Homo sapiens: one gene and its partners. The protein of the gene in region 1 interacts with the protein of each later gene in a pairwise test. Each region holds a gene or a part of one and is shown on either strand. Other genes may lie near its edges.

Region 1 (7,153 bases):
GGGAGAAAAAAAAAAAAACAGCCTTCAATGCCTGTCACATCTAAGCAGATCTGAACTACTATGGGACTAAATAGCCTAGCTGGTCAATTGTTTTTACACATCTGATTAAAAGCTTCAGCAAAAGTGGAAATACATTAAAATTCAAAGTCAAATACTGTTCTCCTAGTGCCTCAAGTAGTTTATTGGTAGTTATTATCCACATTTCTATAAACATTCTAAGTGACCATCACTAGTGCAGGAATATTTAACATATGAAGGCTCCACATCAAGCTACTTCATTCATTTTGTGTGACACAAGAATCAAGGTTCCAAAAACTGTTATGCCACTGAAAAAAAAAAAAAACAAAAAAACAAAACCCAAAGCCAAAACAAATCCTGCTAGCAAAGTGCATTTCTTTTGGTGATTTTTCAGAACAGCTGTTGCTTTAGACATAAAAAATAAGCTGATTTAGTAAAATATGGTCACTGGAAGTAAGTGTCTGTAGATAAGAATTAGATAAAGGCCTTTCCTCCTTATAGAGCTTTTTATTCCAATGTAAACAGCACCAGTGAATTTTCATAAAACAGGTTTGTTATTTTCCCCTCATTTTCTATAATTGTAATTCTTATCTGCCATACTGTTACCATTTCTTCCTCTCTATAATCAGGACTGGACAGCCCATGTAACACTGTTCAATTTGTAAACAAAAAATTAAAGCTCGGAACACATACAGGTTATCTTTTACATTTTCATTCTACAGCGCATCAGGTATATTTATAAAGCTTTTGCTCTTCTCAACACACTACAAAAATATATAAAAACCACATTTGTTTTTAGCCAGCAAATATTAATAAAACAAATATCTTGTAACTGGAATATTTTAGAGACCACATATTTTAATTACATCCTCTTGACTAAATCGCCTTCTTCATAAATCCATATATGTATCCAGTGCATATTTATTAGTTTACATGCCCATATTTACTATGAATGAGTCAATCATTTTAGGTTCTTCAAGTGAAAGTGCTTCTGACAACAAACTATTCCTATAATAGCCCTAAATCCCCAAAAAAGTTGTTTTAAACCTGTGTAGAACGATGCATAGCTATTTCTAAAAAGTAAGACTACACACCAAAACATGCTTTGTCAGGAAAACTAATCCATGCACTTGAATATACCCCAAATATCTTATTTTTAATAAAGGTAGACCAACTTAAACATTGTCTAGAATTAAGCTATACTATTAAATTACTTGATTCCAGAAAGCGTCAAAAATCATTTGGCAGAAACTTAAAAAAGAAAATACTTACTCCTTGTCCCTTACTTCAAAAAAGGACTGGTTGGACCAATGTGATCAATATAACTGCATATATGTTAATCTACCTTAACATTTCCATCGATTAGCACTTGATCGTTACAAAGCCTTGTATGCAATTTTCTTGCAAAGGCTTCCCCCCGAAAGATGTAAGCACAAAACACTAGGCAGACACTCTTTAAAGTTTTATTTCACTAACTTCAGACCAAATTCCCACAACTGTGTTCTGGTCAATTTACTATCCTTGCTTGGCTTCCCCAAATGGTAGTACCAAAAGATTTGTGGGGTAGGGAGAAGAGACCACTTTAAGAAGCACTGCATTTACTCATCTTCCACAAGGCAACAGAGTTGGGCATCTGATTGTTCAACAAAACAAAGCTTTAATAGCATCCAGGAGGGCAGACAGGCAAACCACGCTGTAGACACTCTTCTATTTGTCAAAATCAGACCAGAGAAAACCTACTCCACACAGATATAATAGGTATTGATATTCATCTTTTCTTTTTCTGTTGCCGCAACATTTTTCTTCTTTTAATGATCATATCATGTAGTTTCTCAAGTCCTTCCTTTAGGCCATCTCCTATGATTGCACAGGTAGGCTGCAAATGCCAAGGAGTTGATGAGCTCAGTTCACCCATTGCTAACAATTTCTCAATTTCTGAAAGTGACAATGAGTTCCTCAAATCTTGTTTGTTAGCAACTATAAGTACAGGGACTCCCTGATTTTCTGATATCCTAGTTATTTTGTGAAGTTCAGTTTTGGCTTCTTCCATCCTTTCGACATCAACAGAGTCCACAACAAATACAATGCCATCTGTGCATCTGGTATATGACTTCCACAGTGGCCTTAATTTCTCCTGACCACCTACATCCCAGAAGTGAAAAGTGACTGTTTTAGAATTTCCCAAGGTTACCTTAATTTTCTCAGTGTTAAATCCTTTGGTAGGTACGGTATTTACAAATTCATTGAACTGCAGCCTGTATAAGACAGTTGTCTTTCCAGCACAGTCCAAACCCAGAATAACAATGTGGAAAGACTGAAATGAAGGCAGGTTGGACAGGATAGAAGTCTGGTCTGACAGCCCATTCCCCATTTCCAGGTGCAAATAAATGTCCCAAATTGAAATGCTTTTCTCTTCTTGGTTTACAACTTCTCTTGGTAGCTGATCCAGCTATAAGACTGCTGGGAGACGGAAGAAGGAATAAGTTATTCTCCCGAAATAATACATTAAAACAGGTTTGCTCTACTTTGCTAAAATAAACAACACGAAGAACTTACTATAACTTGCTGCGCTAAACAAACCAGACGAGATATGAAACGTACATGAAAACACACACAGTCCAAGACAAACGATGGAATAACAGTGATTGAAATTATCTGGTTTACTTAAATTGCAGTAATATGTACGTTTTTCTCCTGGGTCCCCAAACCTCAAAGACCTCATTCTGGAAAGAACCCAGTCACCAGTATCTGGTCTAAGTGGCCGTAACCACAAAGTGCCTATCTGGCAGAAAACTCATAGCAGATAGTCCTATCTTCGGAATCTAATTCCACATGCTTAACAGCATACCCAAGATCACTATTACCTCCTACCCCTTGCAAAATAACAACGTTCTCACCTCCCGATCTGGAGTCTGGGTCCAAATGAGAAAGCATTGGCAGGCGTTTCTACGCAGGGATAAGCACCCTTCCAGCTTAGCTCTCCAAGCAGCTCTGGCAGTTGCCGCACGAGAAACCTTGGACTCAGACTCCGACCACGCCCACTCCTCCCGGTCCACTCATGATCCCAAATCCCATTGGTCACCCGCATCAGGGAAGCCATGCAACTCCCGCCCCCGCTCCCTAATTGGTGAGGGTAACTGCCGCTCCCAGCGCGGCGGAGCTGAGCTCTCTCTCGGTCCACCGGCACCACCTGTTGCCCTTAAGTTAGAAAAGGCGGCGTTCCCAGAGGGAGCCGAGCAGCCGCTGCAGGTGAAGGGGAGCCTCGGGCGGTCAGGTCGCCGCCAGGCTGCCGGCTCCGTTCGGCCCGGCGCACCTGCAGCGCAGCCAGGGCGTCAAGCCAAGGCTCTCACATCCGGGGCCCGCAGTCACTGCCAACGCGTTAACCCTTTGTCCGCGGGCCCGAGGGTGCCGGCTGTTGCCGCGCGGGCCCCTGAGGCGCTAGAGATCCCACCTGGCGCGCCCGCCGGGATAAGCCCATCCTCCCCGAAGTGGGATCCCTTCACCCTGTCCCTCCGCACACGACCGGCTCTTCTCCCTCGGCAGGGCGTGGCCGCCCCGGCCGCCCACCCCGCCGCGGCTCACCTGACTAACCGTCCTTCCCTCTTCTTCATTCAGCGTCTCTCCCAGCCGCTGGGGAGGCGCGCTGATACCTGTTCCCTGGCACCAGGGAGGCGTGGGCGATGGCAGAGGACTGGGCGCCTGGCGGGCGCCGCGCGCCAGGCTGCCCTAACGGTGCTCGCCCGGCAGCTCCACGCGACAGTCCCCGCCCCCTGCCCGCGCGCCGCCCGGGCGCCGGCCTGTAGGGGGCGCGCAGGAGCCGCGTCTCCTAGCAACGCCAAAACAAGGTCGAGTTCGAATCGGCCTAGCGCTGGCTGCCCGCGAGGTCGGATGGGACTTCCGGCCTCACCCCTGAACGGTTGCTCCGGGTAGCTCTGTCTGCGGCGGCCCGCCAGCCTGGCACAGGCCCCGCCCGGCACCGCCTTCCCTCACGTCGTCTAGGGCGTCCGCGGGGCAGCAGCCACGTGATTCGCGGTTAGGGATTCCATAGTTCACGGGTTACGGCACACACGCGTTACGTATATATCGAGGTGACGTGGAAGTCCCCCAGTAGTTGACCTTAAACAGCCTGGGTTGACTGGCCTGGTAACTGCGCCTTCATTCGCTTTTTGTAGAGCAAATGAACGCGCTGTCTCACGTGTTTCTAGCAGCATCCCGGGGAACTGGCCACAGATAGAAATATTCCAGTTTGACACATAAGGAAATACACTCTGAAAGATGAAAGGGATGTTTCTTTTTTTCTTTTCTTTCAAATTGCTCACACAATTTTAATTGCAATAGATATAATTTCCAATATACCATTCAACTACACCATTTGTATGTGCTGGAGTGAGACAGGAGTATTTTGATTGAGTGTCCAGTTCTCTTTAAAACTAGCGTTTGCAGTTAACGACTTGGAAAATACAACACAAAAAGCCATCTAGCCTTTTTTTTTTTTTTAATCTCTATTTATCCCTTCAAAATTCCCTTTGTGGCCATATACATACTAGGTGGCTCTACCTGCAGAAAGCTGCATTTTCCAAGCAGCGGGAGAGTTTAATTCTTAACTTTCCTGTACTCCAGCCTCTGCTGGCTCCCTTGCATTTTTGTTTCCATCCTCTTCTTTGTCTTCTGTGCCTTTCGTTCTAGGTTAATCTGCGCAAGCTCTTCACTTTTGTCTGAATGTATTTTAGCGGTGAATTACTCCTTCTGGCTAAGAGCTTCACATCTTCAGTGTTAATGGTGGTGGTTTTCGCATGTCTTGCACACATTTCTAGATCTTGCACTGTCGAAAAGTCAGCTCCGAAATTGCTGCAATGATAAGTTTGCTGAACTGCATCTCTGCCCAATGCCACTTCCTCGCAAAGACAACCCACAGTGTAGTCCACTGCTGCCTCCTTTGGCCTCTGTTGGTAAGAAAATGGCTAAGAAAATCGCTGCTGCTCCTCCACCTCCACCTCCTCCTCCATCAGAACGGCGAGGCAAACGCGCAGAACAGAAAGGGGCTGTGGGGCAGCGGCCAGATTGGATTTTCTCTCCGCAGCCCCAAAGGGATGTTTCTAATGACCCAAGGAAAATTAGTGGTGGTCCTGGAACTGTTCATCTAAGTCTACTAGTCATCAAATGCAAAATGCTTTTCATTGGATGATTCTGACTAAATTTTGTCTTTGATCAATAAGTTCACAAATATTTATTGAACACCTAATAGGCAGTAGACACAATTCTGTGTGCTTGGGGATAAAATGGTGAGCAAAATACACTGTCCCTGCCCTTGTGGAATATTGGAGTCTCTATGGATGACTAAATTTATAAAATGTTTTCAGCGGTAATTTCAGGGTGCTTATGACAACCTGCAAAAGAAGTAATGACTTGAAGTTGTAGGAAAGCTTTAATCGACAAACATCTTTTTGGTGAAGGCTGTAAGACTGTAACTTGGAAGAACCTATATGGTACACTTTTTTAAAAGTGTGCTTTTTTTCTTTTTAAATATGGATTGGAGTTTCCTCAAGAAATATCCTAGTTTTTCTCAAGACCGCTATTGCCAGTGATATTTATTTCTTTTATGACTAGCACAGGAACATGCATACTTGTCATACCGGATTCTTTAAAAAGTCGAGACCAACCTGGCCAACGTGGGGAAACCCCATCTCTACGAAAAACACAAAAAATTAGCCAGGCGTGGTGGCGGGCGCCTGTAATCACAGCTACTCAGGAGACTGAAGCAGGAGAATCGCTCGAGCCCGGGAGGCGGAGGTTGCCGAGCCGAGATAGCGGCATTGCACTCCAGCCTGGGCAACAAGAGCGAAACTCCGTCTCAAAAACAACAAAAACAAAAACAAAAAACGACGTAAAAACCTAAGTTCTGAGCACAATGCATAATCTCAAGACAGCCACACTAATTTTGGGAATAAGAGCTAGAAATATCAAATGGCATATTCTATAAACATGAATCTATTATAAACTAAGGATTGCCTGATTAGTTATAATTGTGAAATCTCATTAGCCATTCACATAATCAGCTAATAATTGATAAAGGGCTTAGTGCAATAACCTATTTCCTTTTATTGGAAATTCAATAGGGATTCTTTATTAAACTGGGATAACTTGCAGATTCTCCTTAAGTCAAGAATTTAGAGCAAGAAAATTCTGTGGCCACCCTCTGTTTACAGTAGTTTTGAAATCTCTAAGTCCTTCCAGTGTTCCTTGCACAGTCTTCCCTGGAGCAAAAAGGGAAAAAAGGAAAACAAAAACACTGAGGGCTTCCAATCTTGCAGAATCGTCCTCACTGAATTGCACTTTAATGTTATACCCTAGGTTTTAAAACTACAGTAGTGGTTGGCAAACTGCAGCCTGTAGGTCAAATTCAGGAGATAAGAATGGTTTTTACAAGTTTAAAGGGCTGCAAGAGAATGGATAAGAAAAGAATATGCAATCAAGATCATCTATGCCCCCCACAACACACACATACAAAATAAATGTGCTCTCTGCCTCTGTAGAAAAATGTTTGGTGTGCCTGTTCTATATATAAAAACCATATGAAAACAGCAACAAATGATATTAAAAGCAATGGAATTTGTGGAACACAAGGTTCACTTTGTTGCCTGATCTTATAGAAGGCCCATTCAGAGCTTTTACTTACATTCTATGCCAGAAAAAAATTCCCTTTAGGGCCTGTAGCTTGTAAATAGTGCTCTGGGGTGCCTCAGAATTCCTAGGGGTTCTGTGGGATAGTTTAACTTTTTGAGGGAAACACAGTGACATCTGTTGGACCATATTAACAACTACAACTATCAAGTTTGGATCTATCAATTTCATAAATAGAAATGTTGGCTATTTATTTTGGCCTGAGGTACCATGAAAAAGTACTGAGGCACTAGGGCCTCTGCGAACCTCACCTTTAATTGTGGTTTTCCAAACTTGGCTAATGATGAGAATCACCTGTTAATGCTTGTAAATGTATAGATTCCTGGTTCCTCCTATTTCAGACCCCCCCAAATCAGAATCATCAGGAGAGGAGCCAGTGATCTGTATTTTAAGTAAGTATTTCAGATAATTAATGATTAGACACTTTGAAGAAATACTAATCATAAGAAATGGG
Region 2 (3,484 bases), on another chromosome or scaffold:
CCTGGACTCCTGGGTCTGAGGGAGGAAGGGCTGGGGCCTGGACTTCTGGGTCTGAGGGAGGAGGGGCCGGGGTCCCCAACTCCTGGGTCTGAGGGAAGAAGGGGCTGGGCCTGGACTCCTGGGTCTGAGGGAGGAGTGGTTAGTTATCTAGGGCTGACATAACAAAGTACCTCAAAATTAGTGGCTTAAATCACAAAAACTGAAGGTCTCCCAGTGCTGGAGGTCAGAAGTCTGAGATGAGGGTGTCAGCCCTGGCTGCTCCTGAGGCTGTGAGGGAGGATGAGTCCCCGGTCTCTGGCTTCTGAGGGTGTGCCGGCAGCTTTGGTTTTCCTCGGTTTGTAGAGGCGTCACCCCAATCTCTGCCTTCACCTCCACATGGTGTCATTTCTGTGTGTCTGGGTCTCTGTACAAACTTTTATAAGACACACATCCTATTGGATTAGGGCCCACATGAATGACCTCATCTGAACTAATTATATCTGCAATGACCTTATTTCCTAATCAGATCACATTCTGAGATGCTGGGGGTTAGGATTTTAATATAAAGTTTTTTGTGGGGGTGGGGGAGACACAATTTGATCCGTGCTGAGTCCATTTTGTGTTGCTCTGACAGAAGACCTGAGGCTGGGTCTTTATAAAGGAAGAGGTTGATTTGGCTCAGATTCTGATGGCTGGAAGGTTCAAGACTGGGCAGGTGCACTCACTGAGGACCTCCCTCATCCCTGAGGCTGCTGCTGCTTCTGGGGGAGGGCAGAAGGATGCAGCTGTGTGCACAGAGATCACATGGTGCTGAAGGAAGCAAGGGAGAGAAAACCAAATTCCCAAATTCCCAAGGGTGAGCACTCACTCACCCCTTAAGGCAGGCATTAATCTATCCATGAGGACTCCACCTCCAAGACCACACAGCTCCTTATGAGGCCCCACATCCCAACACCTGCCACACTGGGGCTCGAATCTCAACATGAATTTTAGTGAGGACAAACGATATCCAAACCATTGCCACCCAAAAGAAGTGGGCTGAGGCCTGGCGCGGTGGCTCACACCTGTAATCCCAGCACTTTGGGAGGCTGAGACAGATGGATCGCCTGAGGTCAGGAGTTCGAGACCAGCTTGGCCAATATGGTGAAACCCCGTCTCTACTAAAAATACAAAAATTAGCTGGGTACGGTGGCTCACATCTGTAATCCCAGCTACTCGGGAAGCTGAGGCAGGGGAATCGCTTGCACCTGGGAGGTGGAGGTTGCAGTAAGCCGAGATGGCGCCATTGCACTCCAGTCTAGGGCACAAAGTGAGACTCCCTCTCAAAAACAAAACAAAACAAAACAAAAAACAAAAAAAAAAACCTACAAAAAAAATCAGAAGCGTGCTGGGAGCTTGGGGGTCCTGGGCGAGGAGGGAGCCGGACGCAAAATCCTCAGGTCCTGGGGGAAGATGGACTGTGGGCAATGCTGAAGGTCAGTGTGACGTGATGCAGCCTGGCTGGAATGTTCCACAGGCATCTCCAGCTTAATTTGGTCAAAACGGAATGCCTGATTTCCCCTTAAATACTCCCTTTCGACCACCTCAGTCATGGCACCGTCATTCACCAGCTGCGGCGGCTCTCAGCAAGTCCTTTTGGCTCCTCTTTCAAGACTCCTAGCGTGGCCCAACGTTCTCCACCTCCACAGCCACGCCATCCTGCACCGCACAGCTTCCTCTCACCTCCCCGCTCGCCTCCAAATTATTCTCCCTGAAGCAGCCAGGGGCCCCTCCTGCAACCTCAATCCAAACACGTCAGGCCCCTGCCTCCTGCCCTTGCACGGCTTCCATCTGCTAAGAATCCAGCCAGAGGCCCTCCTGGGGCGGCCCAGGCCCCACGCGACCGGCCGCCTGCCTCTGCCCTCCCCTCCCGCCGCACTCCCCTCTTCGCCACCAGCGGGCTCCGCGCCTCTTCCTGCCTCTGCCTGCCACGGAGCCGGCCGCCCTGCATGCAGTTCATCCGGGGAGGCGGCAGGAAAGGGTGACATAGTGGCGGGACCCGCTGTTTACCCTGGGACCTCATCTCCCACGACCTTCTTGGGTCGATGACTCCGTTTCCCTGGCACCTGTGGGAAAGAGAAGTGGGGAATTCTATTTTCTCATTTGGAACTCCATTTCCCACCAGCCCCCGGGGCCGCGGCGGTCAAAGCCTCCTCTACCCTCCACAAAAGTACGGGATCTGACTAAGAAAAAGAAGACAAACGCCGCCACGGAGTCTCGGGAAACTGCGACGCCCGGAAAAACCTCGGGTCTGGGTCACCGTGGCTTTGGCGCCGCACAGCCTGCCGATAACTGTAGTCCACCTTCCCGCGGAGGGGCGCAGGGTACCCCCACCGCGGGGGCCTTCAGGCCGGCAGGTGCCTGTGGCCAAGGGCGGGACAGGGATCAAAGCCCGAAATTCCGAAGCGCCGCATCCCATCGGAGAGCTCAAAAGCGAACACAGCGGGCAGGAGGGACTACAACTCGCGGCACGCCTCGGGGCCACAGGCGCCTCTCCCACCCGCGTCCCGGTCCCTGCTGGGACTTGTAGTTTGTTAACTAAAGAGCGCCTCAGCTTCAAAGGCGGGCATGGGAGAGTGACATGGGACCTCCCAATCCGCCATCGCACCCTGCTCGGGATCCACGAGCCCTTGTTCTTTGGGGACACCACACATACCCCAACTGGAGGGCAAAAGGTCACAGACCTTAGCCCAGGATTCAGGGGTACCCCACATGCCAAGACTTCACCTTCATAGAGGCGATCCTCGAATTTCTTTGGCTGTCAAGAATCCCAGGAAAGACGTTCAGAACGCAGGTCCTCAGCCCTATCCTTGACACAAAATGTCCTCCAAAGGAGGCTGATCCTTTGAGAACAGACAAGCCTGGCTCTGGCACTGGCCCACAGTCCTGCCCTCTTAGCCCGATCTAAGGCTGCCCAGCCCTTCAGGACATCCCATCAGCAAGGCCCTTGCAGGACATGGGCCACCTCCCCACTCATCCTTCCCTGACCCTCCCTGAGGTGGTCGCATGTTCTTCCAGCTCCAGGTTGTCCTCAAAGCCCTGGCCCAGCTCACAACCTCACCAGCTTCATCTCCTGCCCCTCAAAGACCTCAAGCCCCATGAAAGCAACGATGGGAACTAGCTGATGGCTGTAGCGTAACTGGCTGATGGCTGTCAAGTAACTTCTAGAATGAATGCTAGACCTTGACCCTGAATCCCTGCATTCTAAACTCTGTCCCCGGCCAATTCCAACTCCAGACTCCCACCATATTAACCTTCTCCCTTTACTCCACTCCTGCTGGGCTCGGGGTGAAACCAGAACAGACCCACCGGGACAGCCCAGGCAGCACCCAGAGACAGGCGGGTCCAGGCCCCTGTCCAGGGAAACAGGCTGGCTCCACGGAGCACCTCGACTCTGTCAACCCCAAGAAATGAGGGGGTCAGCAGGCCAAGTGGTTAAATAATTAATAAGATTACCAACAGCGTG
Region 3 (7,038 bases), on another chromosome or scaffold:
TTATAGCTTGTTTTTATGTTTTCCTGCTGATTAACATTTATATTGTTTCCAGGTTTCCACTGTGCTGCAATGAGCATCCTTGTGCAACATGTTTCTTTAGAATCCCACACAGAATTGGGATTGCTGGGGCATGGAGTATGTGTGTTATTCATTTGAACAGATACTGCCCAACTAATTTCCCAAATTTGACTATGATAATTATACATCCACCAGCAGTGTGTGAAGGTATTCATGTCTAGAGGATGTTTGGTCTGTTTAGGCTGGGGCTAATAATATTATACTAGTATCATTCTGAGAAGACAACTATACACATGGTTAGTATCTGGTAGCTGTTGTAGAAATGATAGCTCTGTCCTTCTTGTAACCAATTCAAATATGATGGCATTAGCAAATGAAACATAGCAAATCTTACTAGCCAACTGGACTAGCTTTTAAGATACAAAAGCGTACTAAGAAGTTTTATAAATCTGCAGAAATTTAAACAAATAGGAATACACACACATCACACATCACAGATAAAGACATTTATTTATGCTAGTATAAGCAGTATTACTTTATTCAGATGTTAAGATAATAGATGTTTAAATGGCAAACAGTTGTATTTGAGCAAAGACTAGTCTTGCCCTAAAATGAAGGAATTCTTTAATCTTCTTATATGTGGAAAGCTGGAACATTAAGTCCATAGATTATAATGTACTCAATTATTTTTAGCCCTACTTCAGCCTTCATTATTAAAATTGATCATCTAGACAAATGTGGCTTTCCCACGCAACCCTCATGGAAACATTAGAGAACAAATATAATAGGTTCAAAAATTACAACATTAAGATGTAGCTTAATATGAGTCAAAGATATTTAGACATATGGTGTTGAACAGCATGAATTTAAATTGCATCAGTATGGATTTAGGCTGATCATAAGGGGGAAAACCTCTCTGAAAATAGGTTTATTAATTCCAGAAATACTTGCTAAAGAAAACCCCTTTTCCCTGGAAGTCTACAAAATTAAGTAAGATGGTGTGAGTAAATGTCCAGAATGAACAAAACCTTGATGTTGAAAGGTACTTTCAATGGCATCAAGATCTAGGCAAGATTGCAGCAAGTCATCCCATAAATAGCCATTGACCATTCCATAGAAAGTGATCCAAAATATTTTTGAAAGAATGAATGAAAAGGAGATCTTAGTTTTAAAAGCACTCCAGGAATAACAATCCAAATCTCCCTCTTAATAACCTGTATCAGTCAGTGTTTAATTTTGTTACTCATCTGTGTATAGCTTACCTAAATCCTTCATGTTGAAACTATTAAATTCAATGAACAGTCAATGTTTTTGTTTTTATGCCTTTTGTGCCACAGCCCCACATTCCTGATGACCAAATAATTGAAGGCGATAATGGGGTGGTGGTGGTTATCATGACATAGTGGAAAAAGTGCTAGACTTGGAGTCAGCAGACCTGGATTTTATTCCCATTTATACTACTAGCCACTTTTGTAATACTGGTCAACTCATGTTCTCTCTCTGAGATTTGTTTCCTCATGTGAGAAATGAGAAATGGGATATGGGTGTGGGCGAGTGTGGATTAGAGGATCTTTAAGTTTGTTTCTGACGTTCTGTGAATATAAGAGACCATTCCCAACTTATTTTTCCATACAAACAAAACAATTTCAAATTTTTTAAACTTGTCAGTATTGTTTTCCTTTTGATGATGATTATAATGATGACTAACACCTATTAATAGCTTTCTGTGCCAAACATGTTACATAGATCATTCTCTTTAACACTCAAAATAACCCCATAAAGAAGATACTATTATAACCCCATTACATAAACAAGTGAAGTTAGACAGAGGTAGGATAGGTAACCAGATGGAGATTACACAGCTAATGCTAAGGTGCTGGAATTCCAACTCAGCATGACTCCAGAACTCATGCTCTTAATCACCATATTTTGCCACGTTTATTGCTTGCTTCATTATATTTTCTGTTTTTCAAGTTGTGTAACCTAATTATATGGTTAAGTTTGACTAGTCCTTATAACAGAAGGTCAAATACTGGGACTTTTAAAATTATTCAGTGTCAAAAGCAACTTTGGAGGCCTGAAAATAAGACACCCACCCACAAGTAGCTGTGTGAGAGAACAGCCTTGATTAGATAATTTAAGTTTCCATAAACTCAATAGAATTTGTAAAACGCGTGGTACATTTACAGAGTGTACTCACAAGCCTCTAAAACTCAATAAACCATTGAATTTTTGTTTAATGCTCATATCATCTAATCTCTTCAATTTTGCAGGAAGACCTTACTTTTTCTGATAAAATATTCAGCATTTTGTTGAGTCGTTTATTCCTGTGGGTCAGACTTGCTATATACACAAACATTATACTTTATTGGCAACTTTAAGTAGAGTCTGGTGAAAAAGAATTTGGGGCCGGGCGTGGTGGCTCACGCCTGTAATCCCAGCACTTTGGGAGGCTGAGGTGGGCGGATCACGAGGTCAGGAAATCGAGACCATCCTGGCTAACATGGTGAAAACCCGTCTCTACTAAAAATACAAAAAAATAGCCGGGTGTGGTGGCGGGCGCCTATATTCCCAGCTACTCAGGAGGCTGAGGCAGGAGAATGGCGTGAACCTGGGAGGCAGAGCTTGCCGTGAGCCGAGATCGTGCCACTGTGCTCCAGGCTGGGCGACAGAGCGAGACTCTGTCTCAAAAAAAAAAAAAAAAGAAATGAAAAAGAATTTGGTTTATAATTATGTGGGCTTGGGGATAATTTCATTACATCACTTGAGATAATTGTCCATACCTTTGTACACACTAAATCTGAGCTAGGAAACTCTGGTTTCCCTAGAGAATTCATTATTCATAAAAGTATATCTTATTTCCACCTATTTGTTAAAAAAGCTGTTTTCAGGGGAACATCACACACAGGGGCCTGTCAGAAGATGGGGACCTAGGGGACGGATAACATTAGGAGAAATACCTAATGTAGGTGACGGGTTGATGGGTGCAGCAAACCACCATTGCCCGTTTATACCTATGTAACAAAACTGCCCTTTCTGCACATGTACCCCAGAACTTAAAGTATATATATATATAAATATATTTTATTCATATTTATATATATTATATTATATATACTATATATATATATACTTTAAGTTCTGGGGTACATGTGCAGAAAGGGCAGTTTTATATATAAGCTGTTTTCAGAGTTAAATCAGATGATGTGCAAATGGCCTAAATGTCTCAGTTATTTACTTTAGTGAAAATGCTTTTGAGTAGCTCAGTGCAGTAAAGAAAGAAGGGAAGGCAGAAGCTCAAAAGGTGTTATTCTCCTTTGAAAGAAAGAAAACCTTAAAAACTTAATATATACCCTGAATTCTAGGATTATTTCTGAGCAAGACCTTGAAAACTAGAGGGAAAACTATTTTTGTCCTCTAATGTATTTTTGATATTTTCCATTCTGATAATGGAACATTAGAATGGGAAAATATACAGTAAGGGTAATCATCAAATGTTTTGTTGAAATAAAAAATGTGAACTAATTTAAACTGAAATCATGAATATCGAAAGTTAATTAAGGGAGATAGCTGATGTAATGAAAATATCAGGAGCTGGTTTTTAAACTCAGGGCATTCACTAACCAGCTGTACTAAATAGGCAAGTTATTTTGAGCTATTCGAGTCTCAATTTCCTTATTTGTTTAACAGATAAATAATACACAATGAATATTGTCTTTATTTGTACATCGTACAATTTGTACAATAAACATAATAATGCATGTTTTATCTAATTGTTGAGGTTCTATCAAGTTGTTTACTAGATAATCATATACATGGAAGAGTTGTGAAAAACAAAAAACCCATGTATTAATATGAAATATTATTTTCACTGGATTGATTATATATGTGACTAAGTTACTAACTTGCAGTTTCTTTACTACTTATTGTGTAGTGGCATTGAAAGAGATACAAATGATGTTAGAATATAATCTCTACCCTCTCATGGTTATAATCATGTAGGGCATAAACACTATGAGTACAAATAGGAATTAAGTAGACTATCATAAGACCTATAAGAAGCTCACTAGGTAAGTTTTGAGGGCTAAGAGATAACTTCAACCTGGGACAATCAGAGGATCAGAAGGTTACACTTGAGGAAAGGCTTGAAAAATTTGTATAATTTCAGGGTGTCTAGATTGGTGAGGGTGAGGAGCAGGAGCAGTTCAGATGTAAGAGCAATGGAGTGAAAGACATAGCTGTGGAAAATTGGGGACTTTATTTAGAGAACAATCATTTACACTTAGCTAAAACATAGGACACCAGAAGGAGAGTTCCAGGAAGTTCCACAGGAGCCCTAACATGGAGGGCCTTGAAAGTCAGACTAAGCAATTTATAGATACTTAGTGTCATTGAAGGTTTTTGCAGCAGAGGAGTGATATGGGATGTGTATAGGGAATTTAAGCAACTTTTCTAGAGAACATATTCTTAGGTGTAATTAAAGTTGTGGAGATTTTAAAATTAATATTCCTAGGGACTCCAACTAGACTGCTTCATAGTTCTATTCTGCCAAAGTTCACCTCATGATTGCATATTTATTTACAGCTCTTCCTGAGACATTCCACATAGACCTTTTTGGGCATTTTCTTCATACAATTTTCTCTGCAATTGGTCTTTAGACTGCAAAATCTGAACCTCTTCAGTCAAGACCTGTTGGCTTCATTTTCCTGTTGATAGCTGTGGTCAAAGAGCTCAAAAGCCTGGTGTAAGACATACAAGAAAGACTGAAGGTAATGAGAATTAAATCATAGAGAATATTACATACGTAGTGCAGGCTTTGTTTCTAAATATTTGGAAACTTGCTAACATGAAAGTATAACTCTTTATGTTGTCTAATTTGAATTTTAAAACTTTACATAAAGACTAATATACAGTATAATATTCCATGAAGGAAAACCATGGAAGGTTTGTGTATGCTCCTGTTACTCCCAATGACTATGAGAATCACTGAAGGTAATAATGGTGAGTTACAAATACTCTAGGCTGAACAGTTTCAAAAGAAGCAATATCTTTAAAAACCACCTGACATTTATGCTGACAGAATTTGCCAAGGCAAACCTCCATTTGAATAAATTCCCTGAATAGTATGGGAGATGTTTTTGTTAGGATCTTTCAAAGCCATGTAACATAGTTAAACACCTGTCTGAGGTTATTGTTGAGATGTTATACTCAACTTATATAGCAAGAAACATGTTATTTATAATAATCTCTCTTTAGATGAAATAAACACTTCTTTGATTTAGGATAAAATCTGTGTTTCTGTTGTCATACAAAGAAAGCAACCGAATGTATAATAGAACTACTTCCTGTTCCTCCTTCTCTCCAACCCAAATCCCTCATTTAAGAGGTCCATATTGGGTTCTTTCTCTTCTTTTTCTGAAGAAAACTAGGAGACAGAGAGAAAATAAAATACACAGTCTTTTTTGCAGTGCATGCTTTCTGTCTTTAAAAATTATGAGTATATATACTTTATTGAAAATCAAAAAATGACCTCTACTGGGATAGCCCCTGGTCTGAAGAAAAAGTTGGCTGAAATATATTTATTAATAAAAGTTTTAACTTTTAAATAGGGCTTAAGAGCATGGCAAATTTCCCAATTGTTTTGTCATGAATTGTCAAGAAAATAAACTTGAAAGGACAGTTTCCCTCTCTTCCACTTGCCACCCTCATATCTTGCCACACACACACCGTGACAGCTTATGAGTGCCTTTGACTGAAAACAGGCCCAGCAATTTATCAGACCTCCGTTAAACAAGATACAATTGCCATGGGCATTTTCACTCAGCAATTAGTTGCACTCTCCAATTTCTATAGCTTCATTTAATTGTAAGCACAAAAGAGGAGACCAAAGCTGAAAATGCAACCCCTTTATCCTATGACCTCATTCTTTTTTCAGGCAGCGCACTTCCTTGAACAATCATTCACTTTAGTGACTACGCCCTTGAACAACAATTTATCAAAGCAGCACACCCCTCCCCACAGAACGGGAAACTTTTCTGATAGTGGAAGAGAAGAGTTATCCACAATCTTTGCAACCAAAGAAAAAGCACAAAAAAATCATATAAACAAAGGTAAGCCCCAGCTGAATAATTGTTGAGAACAGAGGTCATTCGTAAACACACATTTTCCCCCAGGCTGCTCTCTAGAGTTTCTTTGCAAGTTTCAAATTCAAAAGAATGGCAACCCTTATAACATATACACTAAAATAATCCTTCTCTCACAAAAGCATGTTTTACTTGATAAAATGCTGATGGTCACAACACAAAATACTCCTTTAAAATGAAATATAGATAGACACATGGGACACCTACAGACCAGGCTCTGTATGTCTGTCCTAAAAATGAACTCTCCCTGGACAGGTTAATGGTATTTATCCAGAAAATCACAGTGTTTGCTAAAAAATAGGCACTTAATAAACATGTATTCAGTGAATGACTGGTATTTAAAAATATTTTATTTTAATCCATTTTTTCTCTCTCACATTTTTTCTCTCTCATGTATACAGCTGCTCTGTATGCATGAAAAATACCTCGAACTTCATGAAAACCTTAATTAGTGGAAGGAAAGAATGTTAGCCCAATGAGTAATTCATATCAATGTTGCTCATTTAAGGCATTTCATTTTGAGTTAATGATGGTAGGTTAACAGCTAAGCTTTGTAAAAGATTGAACTAAGAATTTTTGTTTTACTTTAAGCTTCTAGAACTCTATTTATTTGCAAGACCACATTCAGTTCTAAAATGCATCTGAGACCTTGATTATATCTGTGTTTGACTATACGTGTTCATGCAGATAAACCCAGTAATTTTAATTCTACCATTAATTTAGAAAATTTCACCAGCAACTGGTTTCTACACTTAATTTTCTCTGAGAAACACTCTATCAATCAAACAAAATAATAACCAAAAAACATAAAATATATGTTTAATTAAAGAAACAAAGTAACATTATATATCTAGATAAATTTAAAATATGTTTATAT
Region 4 (7,038 bases), on another chromosome or scaffold:
TTAAGAGCAATGAGGTAAGAATCAGAAAGTTCTAGTCTCCCATTCTATCACCAAGAATGAGAAGTTAAACAAATCTTACAACCTCTGAAACCAACTGCCTCAACTTGCCTCATTCATTAATTCAACCCAAAATACTGATTTACAGCCAGATACTTTTCTCTCTCTGGGTATACACCAGTGAACAAAATAAACACAATCTCTATTCTCAAGGAACCTGAATTTCTAATGGAGGGAGACAGACAAGACATGGAATAAATCAACTAATATATATGTCAGATGGTGATGGATGCTACAGAAATAAAATAAAGTAGGGAATGCTGGGGAGACACACGGCTATTGATATAGATCAGGAAAGGTCCCCTGATACGGTAACAGTTAAGCAGAATCCTGAAGAAAGCAAGGGAGCATTTGAGGAAAGAACAGTTCCAGAAGACCAAAGAGTACAAAGGTCCTAAAATGGAATCACACTTGGCATGCTCAAGAAACAGCAAATAGAGAACTACTAAATTAGAATACTATGAGTGAAGGTTACATCATGGAGGAGAAATAACAGGGAACCAAAATGCAGAGGACTGTAGAGGCCACTGTAAGGATTTCGACTTTTACCTTAAGTGAGAGAGAGGGATTTTTGAGGATTCTGAGCAAAAAATCATATGACATGGTACAAGTATTAAAAGGACATATAAATTAAGTTTTCACATTATCTGAAATTGGGGTTTAAAGGTACCAATTTCACATTTTATGTGTAAATCACTAGGAAATCATATCAAATAAGATAATGAATGTGAAAGCTCTGTAAAGAGCTACAAAGATATTCAGAATACTTAGGCAAATAACTATCCAAATTGTTAAACCATCTTTCTCAAAATAATAAAATTTGCTAATTCTCATTCATTCCCGTTATACCAGTGTGTTTCAAAAGAGAACATCCCAAAGGATCTCCAGGCCTTCTTCTTACTGAAGACTGCTGCTAATAACAAGACATTTTTCCTGGCCTTGACACAGCCACGGACAGGGGGCCAAGAGTCACTCTTGGCAAAACCTGCACTTCTTCCTTCCTCTCAACACAGATGGCCACAATTCTACTTAGGAGACTATCTCTATTAATTCTATCAAGCCCCACAGCCCCACTGAATTATGTCAGTCACTACGAGAAGCCCCAAATCCCAGGACTCTCATCCTAAATGATTTTACTGTTCTCCTAATCTGACCCCATTTCCAATCTTTCCTAAATCTTTTCCACAGCATTTTCTGGAACCCATATCCTACCATCAACAGAATAGTCTACCTATATCCTCAATCTCTTTTCCAAATGTTCCTCTCTTTCTTTAGCTGAAATCTGTATCTCCCCTAAGAATATTTCAACACTGAAACCTGGCTCTCTCCTAAGGTAGTTGTTTTCTCTTTTCTCTCCCACAGCACTGGAAGGGGACAGAGATTACTGAGGTATATGTCCTCAGGCGATTTAATCATTGTGCGAACATCATAGAGTGCACCTACACAAACCTATACCATATAGCTTACTATACACCTAGGCTATATGCTATATAGCCTATTGCTCCTAGGCTACAAACCTGTATAGTATGTTACTGTACTGAATACTGTAGGCCAACTGTAACATGATGGCACATGTTTGTGTATCTAAACATAGAAAAAGCAAAGTAAAAATAGGGTATTATAATCTTATGGGCGCACCATCACACATGCAGTCCACCGTTGACCAAAATGTCATTATGCAGTATGTAATTATAATTTCCCTTTTTGTCTTACAACAATTTCTTCTCTTCTGAACATATCAAAACAAGTTTCATTCCCTCTCCTCTTTGCAATAGCATTGATATGGGAACTAGAGGAGAATTTTTTTTAATGGCAACATTTTAAAAAATAAGTTGAGGTAATTTGACAAAAGAGGAAAAGGAGACAGAAAAAGTATCACTAGGTCCTTCTCAAAAAAATTGAAACCATGGTGACAAAATGAAAAAATGTGACACGGAGTGGCATACACCAAGTTGTTTTATAGTCATTCCTTTCCATTAGAAAGAAATCAAGACACTTGAGTCCTAGAGCAATGTGCTGCTACATAACTTTCTCTGTGACTCTGAGCTGATAAGAATCCATGTCTTTTGCAAAGGTCTAATGCAGACAATATACCTAATATTATAGGAGTGAGATATATACAAAACATACATACTTCTAACCATTTTGATAAAGTATGTACTAATTTTGCAAATTTTATCAGACTCTCTGAGTTACATTTCTAAACTGAAGTTATGGGAGAATATAGCATAAGGTGTCGGCATAAACTTTAGAAACAAAAAGAGGAGCTTTTCTACCTTATGGCCCTGGGCCATAAGTGACTACTGTTCTTGTGTTAATATACTGCTGCCACTGACAACAGCTAAGTAGATCAATCACCAAAATATTATTTATTACTCCAATGGTGGTAATAATACTTATTGAAGTTAATATCTCTACCACCACTGCTTGCCCTGTCTTGAAGGAAACTGTGATTCCTAGAGGATTCACAGGATCCACAGGATTCCTAGAGAGCTAGGTCAGCTGTTGAGAGATTCAGACCTCAAGCAGAGAAAAACTGCTCTTTAGATGCCCAAGAGAAATGACTACTAAAAGGTTATTGTGGAGCTAACAGGAAAATAAAAGGAATAGAACAGCAGCAAAAATCACTAGACTGATAATAAGGATGTCTGAGTTCAATAATGAAGGATCTACCAATACTAAATAAAGTAGGAAAATCATAATTTCAATTAGCAATAATTGCGCCTCGGATAAACCTCACTGGCTACGATACTGCCACTGCGCAAAGCTGGAAAATCATAATTTTGTTAAACAACTATACCTTAACATTAACAAATCTAGTTTTGCATTGTATTATTTATAACCTAATTCCACTTAGAAATCAATAACCACTGGGAGCACTTCTTATGTGTTCTTATATATGCTGTAACACAAAGTAAAAATTATTTTTATTATAAATCAGTGTCTCTGACATCAGGTCTCTTCTACTTAGAAAAGTGTATACTCCTGACAGCAACAAGAGCTTTAAAACTCAAAGCAGTTGGGAAGCTGAAGCAAAGCATCAGGAAACGGTTTCTGATTCCTACTTTGCTTTTATCTACCAGGATGTGTGATCTTGGGTAAGCCACTGAACTTTCACTGCCTATCTCCTATGAGCCAAACACCATGCTAGGCTTCTACATACATTACCTCAAATAACCCTCACAACTAATCTGAAAGTAGATAGTATTATCTTACTAAGGCTCAGAGAGAGGTTAAATAATCTAGCCTAAATTCATACAGCATGTGCAGAACTGAGTTGCAAAACCACCCTATATGACTCAAACCAAGTATCTCCATGATTCCTTTTCAGGACTAAAATCTGAGACTAAATAAAGAGTAAGATGGACTTAACATTTCAACAAAGCTGAAGAGATAATACTATATGCCATTTCCCTTCAAAGCTATGATTATCCTACCCCCGAATTCTGAAAACATTCCACCCAAACCCACTGCACACTCAATAACAAAGTTATATCCCTAGGGGGTAAAAGTGGCTGAGTACCACTATTTTAGGGCATGCAGTGAGGTATGCATAACAAGCTTTTAGCTCCATGATAAATTAAATTCTCTATAAATCTCTAAAGATGTTGTACAATATAAATAAGATTTTCTTACCAACACTTTAATTATTTCCTCCTTGGTTAGAAAAAGATTACTCTTCATTAAATGTTAACAAATAAGATTTTAAACTACTGTAGATTCAAGCTTTAGTAGAATATTACAGTAAAAATGTATCTATCATGAAGTTGAAATTTCATTTGGTGGTAAGATATTACTATGTTATTTTAACATGTTTAATCTTTTAAAATGCAAACTAAATATTTGTATTCAAATTATGCCTAGGAAAAAATACCCATATCCACTTACATTTAATAAAACAAAGATGCTTTTTAAACTCTCCAATCCAACTTAATAAAAAATTTCATTGGACATTTAATACTTATATTAACTTACCTGCATAAGCAACAATCCAACTATAAAAGCACTTCCTTGACAGTAACCAACCTCACGATCTACTAAAGAGTAAGCCTAAAAAGTAAAAAAAAGTTGTTCAAAATACATGGTAAGTTATACCTTCCTTCTCCAAAAAACCTAAAATTGGCAAGACAGACAGATTAAAAAACATTTATTTTTGAGAAAAGCTCTTGCTTGCTTGTTATAGATGTTATCCTATACATATTTAAAAAGCAAATGTTTTATTACATGAAATTTTATTTTGACAATTTCCCAATCCAAACTTGCTAGCTCTAAAGACATAAAATAAAATAAAATAAAATAAAATAAAATAAAATAAAATAAAGGAATTTGTAACAGGGCTTAAAAATCAAGTAAAATTGAGCTGGGCACAGTGGCTCATGCCTATAATCCCAGCACTTTGGGAGGCAGAGGCAGGCGGATCACCTGAGGCCAGGAGTTCGAGATCAGCCTGGCCAACATAGTGAAACCCTGTCTCTACTAAAAATACAAAAATTAGCTGGGCGTAGTGGCGGGCGCATGTAATCCCAGCTACTAGGGAGGCTGAGGCAGGAGAATTGCTTGAACCTGGGAGGTGGAGGTTGCAGTGAGCTGAGATCACACCGCTGCACTCCAGCCTGGGCAAAAAGAGTGCAACTCCATCTCAAAAAAAAAAAAAAAAATTCAAGTAAAATTTATATTGATGTATATAAAACTAGACTAGGTTTAAGGCAAAGGATTGGCGAAATTGAAATGATTTAACAAGAAGTCAGTATTTCAAAGAAGTAGCTAAAAGAAAAAGTAACTGTGGGAAGGGAAATGGCAATATTGAAGAAAAAATGACAATGGTACACCTTTCAAGGGCTAAGTGCTCTTAACAGTGCTGGCCATAGAAAGCAGAAAAATTTGCTCACTGTAGGAACACAGATATGATAGGAGAAACCCACATCCCAGGTTTTGAACTTCACAGATGGTGAATTATTCCTTTTCATGAGGATCCCTCTATGATATGTGACTTTTAAGCTATTCCATTTCCATCAACTAATGCTAAATAACGTAGTAAATGTTCTAACAAGTTCTCTATACTAGATAGTAATGTAGCATAAGAATTAAGGCAAAAATGATGCTAAAACCAATTTCACTGCCAAAGCAACTGATTATTGTGGTGGGAGGTCATGCTTCATCATGAAAAATGTATAATTTCAACCTTCCAGGAATTCATTTCATTTCAAAAAATGAATAAATAAAACTTACCTTCATTACATTAAATAAAACCTCCTGTCCAAGGCTATCTTTTTCCTTAAAAAAGTTGTGTTCAGGGTAAGTTCTAGCAATGTCCCTTCGGATCAATTTTTCACAAGGCGAGGTCATTTTCAGGAGTTCTGAATACTGATCCTTAATTGGCATACTTTGTGCACTGCATAAAAGTTGCCAAACTATTGCTCTAAAGTGATGGGGTATCCCTTTATGAACAAGTTCCTAAAAATAAAATAAAATTACAAAAATGAATTATTTAAGTGTCCTATCTTGCAAGCCAAGGAAGACTTATTAGGGGGTTGGAATGAAGTAGAAGACATCATTAAATTTGTAACTCACAAAGCTAGCTTTATAATAAGACTAGGGAACCCTGTAAGTCAAGGGTAAGATTGGGCCCTGGGTGTATCCTCTTCTGGTCAGGGGATTAATAATGATCATTTCACCTCAGTGTGTGACCTCTTAAGGTAATGGACTTGAAACCTGCAGAGCTGTGAATGATGGTACAGTACCCAACATTCAAAGGGCTGTTGAAGGCAAAAAAAAAAAAAAAAAGGAAAATACTGTTATTCAAGAATGCAGGATATCACAACTTCATTTCTGAATCAATAAAATGAGAGAATTTAATTTCTAAAACAATTTTCGGGCCGGGTGTAGTAGCTCACAACACTTGGAGAGGCGGAGGTAGGAAGACTGCTTGAGGCCAGGAGTTTGAGACCAGCCTGGGCAACAAAGCAAGACCCTATCTCTACAAAAAGGAAAATAAAAAATTAGCGAGGTGTGGTGACACACACCTGTAATCATAGCTACTCAGGAGCCTGAGGCAGGAGAACAGCTTAAGCCCAGAAATTCGAGGTTATAGTGAGCTATGACTGCATCACTGCACTCCAGCCTGAGCAACAAAGTGAGTCTTTATAAAATAATAATAAGTAAATAAAATAATTTTCAGTTATATATTTCTATATGATCAGGACCTCTGTAACAACTGATGTCTACAAATTAAAACTTTTAGGGGTACAAGTAAGTGAAAACAAATAAAGCAGACCTCTTTAATATATAGCTTGGAAGTTGTATTTGGGGTTTTTTTCCCAATCCTCTATTAAGTTATGTCTGACGCACTATGGAATAAGAATAAGAACTTCAACAAAGAACATGAATACCTTAACTTGCTTTTCCTTCTTTTTGCGTACATCTTCCCATTCATTAACAATTCTTCCCCAAAGAATCCAAGAATCTTCTTCAAGGTGACTGAGGTTGCTAGAGGCTGATGAACTCGACACAAGAGAAGAGCCACTGTTTCTTCTTGACCCATTTACAGATCTTAAAGACTTACTATCCGTTTCTAACAATCTAAAATATAATTAAAAACTGTTCAAGATCTAATCGGACAGTGATATTAGAAGAGGCATTGATGATACTTAGAGCTTTATTACTGCAATTTAACCATTGTTTTAAAATATAGTTTTAATAATATACATAATTTAAATAAATTTTGGTCACATCAATAAAATTACTGCTATATTTTTTTCACCTATTATAGCAGTTTGAAAATTTGAAAAAGCAAATTACGTTAAAAATTTTTGAGCTACTAGCCCCATTATAATTTCCCTTCGTCTCCATTAAAAATTCAAATTAGGGGAAATCTGATGAGAAAAGTATTTGGGTAGGCTTCAGGAAAAAAGAACTTATACTTGGAAGAGGTACAACAAATCTATGAAATAACCAATCCTAAAACGTTTACAATGTGTCTAA

What was found.
Region 2: the proteins of ARL4A (region 1) and CYTH2 interact in a two-hybrid assay, tested with the Homo sapiens proteins (one study listed by BioGRID).
Region 3: the proteins of ARL4A (region 1) and POF1B interact in binary tests that used the Homo sapiens proteins (3 or more experiments, as listed by UniProt).
Region 4: the proteins of ARL4A (region 1) and EVI5 interact in binary tests that used the Homo sapiens proteins (3 or more experiments, as listed by UniProt).

The regions. Positions count from the first base shown.
Region 1 is NC_000007.14:12,683,491-12,690,643, reverse strand, and holds the start of ARL4A (ADP-ribosylation factor-like protein 4A), read right to left. Parts: upstream 3,012-7,153; 5' UTR 2,916-3,011; intron 2,479-2,915; 5' UTR 2,390-2,478; coding exon 1,787-2,389; 3' UTR 1-1,786. UniProt on the Homo sapiens protein: Small GTP-binding protein which cycles between an inactive GDP-bound and an active GTP-bound form, and the rate of cycling is regulated by guanine nucleotide exchange factors (GEF) and GTPase-activating proteins (GAP).
Region 2 is NC_000019.10:48,479,350-48,482,833, reverse strand, and holds the end of CYTH2 (cytohesin-2), read right to left. Parts: 3' UTR 520-3,484; downstream 1-519. UniProt on the Homo sapiens protein: Acts as a guanine-nucleotide exchange factor (GEF). Promotes guanine-nucleotide exchange on ARF1, ARF3 and ARF6. Activates ARF factors through replacement of GDP with GTP.
Region 3 is NC_000023.11:85,369,638-85,376,675, forward strand, and holds part of POF1B (protein POF1B), read right to left. Parts: intron 1-7,038. UniProt on the Homo sapiens protein: Plays a key role in the organization of epithelial monolayers by regulating the actin cytoskeleton. May be involved in ovary development.
Region 4 is NC_000001.11:92,698,109-92,705,146, forward strand, and holds part of EVI5 (ecotropic viral integration site 5 protein homolog), read right to left. Parts: intron 6,637-7,038; coding exon 6,447-6,636; intron 5,814-6,446; coding exon of another isoform or gene 5,733-5,813; intron 5,725-5,732; exon of another isoform or gene 5,629-5,724; intron 5,512-5,628; coding exon 5,287-5,511; intron 4,108-5,286; coding exon 4,033-4,107; intron 1-4,032. UniProt on the Homo sapiens protein: Functions as a regulator of cell cycle progression by stabilizing the FBXO5 protein and promoting cyclin-A accumulation during interphase. May play a role in cytokinesis.